Linked DNA regions of Homo sapiens: region 2 is linked to region 1. Evidence: fine-mapped QTL for protein levels in blood plasma. A gene starts in region 1. The other region holds a variant in brackets. All regions are shown on one strand. Distances are from middle to middle.

What was found. PIP is the posterior inclusion probability: the model's chance that the variant is causal. Sun 2018 read protein levels with aptamers (SomaScan).
Region 2: its variant is fine-mapped to the plasma level of the XXYLT1 protein (Sun 2018, PIP 0.95).

The regions. Positions count from the first base shown.
Region 1 is chr3:195,268,623-195,271,499 of GRCh38, forward strand. It overlaps XXYLT1 (xyloside xylosyltransferase 1), which reads right to left and starts at 2,537. Exons shown (of 4, transcript NM_152531.5): 1 at 1,933-2,537. The coding sequence starts at 2,436. RefSeq lists an enhancer at 1,776-2,567 and silencers at 1,818-1,997, 2,158-2,687.
Region 2 is chr3:195,065,616-195,068,499 of GRCh38, forward strand. XXYLT1 (xyloside xylosyltransferase 1) reads right to left here. Exons shown (of 4, transcript NM_152531.5): 4 at 2,669-2,884. Among named protein-coding and RNA genes, the nearest start is that of XXYLT1-AS1, 28 kb to the right of the region's middle. RefSeq lists an enhancer at 2,717-2,884. The variant G/A (reference allele first, on the strand shown) is at 2,688.

The DNA.
Region 1 (2,877 bases):
GAGCAATTTTATGCCAGGACTGATAACCCCTTATCCAATCACTGACATCTGGCTAGAAGTCCCCAGACACTAAACCCTCACCCCTCAACAGAGGAGGTATCAGTTCCCTCTGGTCATTTGCAGCTGCCTCCAGGCCTTGAGTGAGGCTGCCAGAACTGGGCCCAGTAAAGTGGGGTAGTCCGAGCATGAAACACTTACTCCAAGACAGGAGGGGCTCGGCCCTGAGGCTGGATCTACCCCTGGGCCAATATTTCTGGTGCCAACTAAGAGTGCCAGGCATTGTACATAGGGATGGATGATAAGACATGATACAGTCACAGCACCAGGGAAGTAGAAAAGGAAAGAAGGGACGCTTCCTTGGCTCCAAGGAGGGGATGGTATCTGAAGATGGGCAAGACTTGGAGATGGAGAGAAGGAGCACCCCAACAGTGGGAATGACAAAAGCAAAGGCAAGTAGGCTGGAAAGCACTGGCTGTGCAGCTAGCGCTGCAGCGGGAGCTGGGGACAAGGGGACAGAGATCCGGCAACGGTGCAGAGTAGGCCCAGAAGAGATGACAATGCTATCTTCAAGGCGGTGTTTGGAGACCTGGTCAAATCCCAAGATCTGCCCAGACTGACCCTATGGCCAAGGGCCCTCAGTTTTCTACCGTGAACTAGTGCAAAGTTTCTCAAATATTAGGGTCATTAGGATCACCTGGGACAGGTTGCCAGGCTCCTCCTCCAGCGAGGACCTTCAGAGGTCCCAGGGTCTAGGGACTTTCTCAGGAGAGGTGAAAGCTGAGTAAAGAATGGCCAAGGGCCCAAGAGGACACTGTGGGCAGACAGTACAGCATGTATAAGGCCCACTCCCTACATAGCTAAGGTATGAGGTGCATGTAGACAAAGGAGGAGAGGTGAAGCCAGAGAAGTGGACCAGGCTCACAACACAACAGCCCTACCAATAAACTGGGACTTCACCCCGTAGGCAACAAGGAGCTATCAGAGACTCCCGAAGCCTGTAGGATCCTGGCAACAGCTCCCCTAGTCACTCACATAATACAACTCCTGTCTCAGCATGCTTCCCCAACCAACATCAGTCTCCACCCTTTAATATTACCTACTACTCCTTAAAATCTGGCCTCGGATCCCCTCTGTACAACTATTAGGTCAAAATCAAATAAGCAATTTGACCTAGGCAATTCACACTATGTCAGAAACACATCTCAGACAAGGAGAGCCAGGCAGTGAAGACAGATGATAAACAGAGATGGAAGCTGTCATGGAGGCAGACTGGTCCAGCCTGGGACAAGGCGGCCAGCTGTGCTCTCCCCAGATCATATCTGTTCCTCTTGAGCTTTCTCTTCCTCATTCGGAGGAACTCCAGGCTTCTCTAAATGGGTTCATGACCCTTGGAGGAAGGGGAAAAAGGGACACAGAGAGGAGATAAGATGGTTCACAATGAGTTTGACCAGATCCTACTGAAATACCTTAAGAGCAATGAGAAGTGTCACTGCAACTTCAACACTTCCAGAGGCCTCACCAAGGCCCTCTCCAGTTGCTCAGGATGACTACTGGTGACCAGTCCCATCCTCAGAAGTCAAAAACTGAGGAACATAAACAGAGGTGCAGACTCTGAAGGCAGTGCTGAACCCTGCAACGTTAGCAAAATGGGGGCGCGCGGACTCTCCTGGGGGCTGCGCTTAACTGGGGGAGAGGAAAACGAGGCGGTCATTAAAAACGCAGCTCCACTCCTCAGCACCAGCTGAGGGCGTCTGGCTCCCGGACACGCCCCCGAACGAGCCCTCCCGCAGGTTGTGAACACTACATTGCAAGCGGGCAGCTCAGGGAAGATCCTACCCGCTAGTTCCCCGGATCCCCTCCGGGAGCGCAAACTGACCTCGCCTAGGATGGGGTGGGCCACCCACCGGGAGCCCCCAGCCGCGGCCCGCTCACCTTGCACTTGAAGCCAGCGGCGGGCGGCAGGAGCTCCCGCAGCAGGCCCTTGGCCACCTCGCGGCTGGCCTCCTCGCTCACGAAGTGAAGGTTAAGCACCTCGTGCGCCTCGAACTTGGCGAGGCGCAGCAGTGAGCGCAGCGCGACGCGGGCCTTGGCCTGCAGCGCGGCATTGTGCTCCGCCTTGGTGAACATCATCAGCAGGTGGTAGTCCACCGGCCCGGCACCGCCGCCCTCCAAGCTCTTGGCCTTCGCGCCGGGGGCTGGCGCCACGGAGCCCCGCGCTAGCTCCAGCGCGGGCGGCGAGGGCGCGGCGGGAGCCCCGGCGCGGGCCTCCTTCAGCCTCTTGGTGGCGCTGGAGAAGGTCTCCCGGCCTGAGCCGAGGTAGTAGAAGGCGCAGACGGCCAGCGCCGCGGCCAGCAGCAGGGCGCAGTAGTGGGAGCGCACAGCGCCCAGGCGCGCCATGGCCCGAGCGCATGGGAGCCCGCCTCGGAGGAGGCCCATGCGCTACGAGACCGCGGCGCCAGCGGTGCCAGCAACGCGGGAGAGCCCTCGGGTACCCGGACGCCGGCGGCCACTTAGCCCCGGCGCCAGGCGGCGGCCATGAAAGGGGCGGGGCCGCGCCGCCTGGAGCCAATCGCGGGCGCCGGTGCGCGGAGGGGCGGGGCCGGGCGTGCCGAAACCGCTGGGTCCTAGGTTCCAAGGGTATTAGAGGAGGGGTTAGGGTGGGATCCGGCGCCCGGCGTTGGGAGGGGGGGATTCCGGACTCCAGCGTGCTGAGGGCTGGCCCGCTGTCCCGGCTGAGAAATGGCGCCCTACGCGGCGAGCCCCAGAGGATATCCAAGCTGAGTGTTGAAGGGAATGGAGGCGCCCGAACAGAGGAACTTAGGTTAGCCAAAAGCGAAGCTGGAGGCACCAAGAGGTAAAACTTTAATCTCTGCACCT
Region 2 (2,884 bases), 200 kb before region 1:
GGTGTGATCTGTTGGCGGGCCGGGGTGTGATCTGTTGGCGGGCCGGGGTGTGATCTGTCGGCGCTCTGTGATCTGTCAGCGGCCTGGGGTGTGATCTCTCAGCGGGCTGGGGTGCCTGTGCGGTGATCTGTTTGCGGGCTGGGGTGTGAGCTGTCGGCGGTCTGGGGTGTGATCTGTCGGCGGTCTGGGGTGTGATCTGTCGGCGGTCTGGGGTGTGATCTGTCAGCGGGCTGGGGTGCCTGTGCAGTGATCTGTCGGGGGGCTGAGGTGTGATCTGTGGGCGGGCTGGGGTGACTCTGCAGTGATCTGTCGGCAGGCTGGGGTGTGATCTGTCGGGCTCGGGTGTGATCTGTCGGCGGGCTGGGGTGCCTGTGCAGTGATCTGTCGGTGGGCTGAGGTGTGATCTGTGGGCAGTTTGGGGTGCCTGTGCAGTGATCTGTTGGTGGGCCGGGGTGTGATCTGTTGGCGGTCTGTGGTGTGACCTGTCAGCGGTCTGGGGTGTGATCTGTCAGCGGGCTGGGGTGCCTGTGCAGTGATCTGTTGGTGGGCTGGGTGTGATCTGTTGACGGGCTGGGGTGTGATCTGTCAGTGGGCTGGGGTGTGATCTGTGGGCGGGCTGGGGTGCCTGTGCAGTGATCTGTCGGCGGGCCGGGGTGTGATCTGTGGGCGGGCTGGGGTGCCTGTGCAGTGATCTGTCCGCAGGCTGGGGTGTGATCTGTCGGCGGGCTGGGGTGTGATCTGTGGGCAGGCTGGGGTGCCTGTGCGGTGATCTGTCGGGGGGCTGGGGTGTGATCTGTGGGCGGGCTGGGGTGCCTGTGCGGTGATCTGTGGGCGGGCTGGGGTGCCTGTGAAGTCATCTGTCGGTGGGCCGGGGTGTGATCTGTCGGCAGGCTGTGGAGTGATCTGTCGGTGGGCTGGCTGCCTGTGTGGTGATCCGTCGGCGGGCTGGGGTGCCTATGTGGTGATCTGTCAGCAGGCTGGGGTGTGATCTGTCTATGGGCCAGGGTGTGATCTGTTGGTGGGCTGCAGTGTGATCTGTCGGGCTGGGGTGTGATCTGTCCGCGGGCCGGGGTGGGATCTGTTGGTGGGCTGCGGTGGGACCTGTCAGCGGGCTGGGGTGTGATCTGTCAGCGGGCTGGGGTGTGATCTGTGGGTGGGCTGGGGTGCCTGTGCAGTGACAGTCTGCTGTGCACTGGGGGGTTGGAAGGTCGAGGCCACTGGTGACAGAGGGGAAGCTCCTGAGAGGTTTACTTAAAAGTAAATGAGGGATGTTGTTTGGCCTTTGCCCATTTTGACCAACCAGCTTATTGTTTTTTTCTTGCAACAACAAAATACACACATAGCTATAGACACATTTTAATTATAGAAAGGATTGCAGGGAAAATACCTTTATTATTGTGAGTCTAAAATTCTTTAGCCTTTAACTCACTTTTTTCCCGTTGAAATAATTGTTTTTTTAATGTGGTGTTTGAAACACCTATGTTTTTAGAAGTTGAAATACAGCAGAATAGATGCTCTTTTTATACATACGTGTGTGTGTAGGTATGTATCTATACACACGTGTGTACACTGATATACATACACATATATGTAATTTTAAAAATAGGATCGTATTAAACATATGATCTTACATTTTGCATTCTTTATTTAATAGCACATTCTAAGTATTTCCTGAGGCATTACATATTCTTCGAATAATGCCTCAAGTATTCTGTTATATGGATGAAGCATATTATTCATCTACCTATTCCATTCTTTTTTTTTTTTTTTTTTTTTTTTTTTTAAAGACAGACAGAGTCTTGCCCGGTCCCCCAGGCTGGAGTGTAGTGTCGTGATCTCAGCTCACTGCAGCCTCTGCCTCCTGGGTTTGAGTGATCCTCCCAGCTCAGCCTCCTGAATAGCTGGGCGTGCACCACCATGCCCAGCTAATTTTTGTATAGTTGTAGACACTGGGCCTTGCCATGTTGCCCAGGCTGGTCTTGAACTCCTGGGCTCAAGAGATCTGCCGGCCTCAGCCTCTGAAAGTGCTGGGATTACATGTGTGAGCCACCGCGCCTGGCCCCTCTTTTTCACATTTTAAGTTGCTTCCAATTTTCTTCTACTATAAAAAATGTGATAAACATATAGTATATGACTCTGTCCACATCTCTCACATTTTCTTACAGTCGACTTTAGACATAATGACCTTCATGAAGTTTTCATAAACATTATCAATAGCGTAATAAATCCCCCAATACAATGGCTGGTGCACAGCAGGCATTCAAGAATTGTTACCTATAAATAGGAAATCAAGTAGGTGAGAGAACAGACCAATTCTGTCACAGCAGAGGGCTGGGAAAGATATCTGCTCCACCTCTTCAGGGCAGGATGTAACTGGGCAGTCTAGGGTAAGAGGGATGAGAAGAAATGGGGATGCTTTTGCTCCCCAGTGCAGGTGGACCTGCCAATACCTAGAATGAAATGATTCCTTGCTTTGAACCAAACATGCCAATACTACCCTCTCTGACACCCTCTCAGATGTGCCCTCTCCTTGGTCCTTAGGATCTCCTGTAAGCACTCATCTTCATCAGGGGAGGTGGGGATTCCAATGGCATTGAGTACACACTTGATTCAGAGCCTTCATGCAGCTGAAACTGTGATCAGAGAACAAACAACATGAATCACCATGTTCTCAAAGATGATTTATT[G/A]GCTATCCTCACTCATGGGAAAAAGAAAAACGTAAATGAAATCAAAACAAAACAAGATGAAAATTGATACAAATGGACCCCTGGGGCTTTCACGTCTGCAGCCTACGTACAGGAGGCCCCATCAAAAGAAATGACGCTTTAATTTCTGCTAAGGTCTACGGTCTAACGTGGTATGATAAGGGGATTTTTTAAACAAA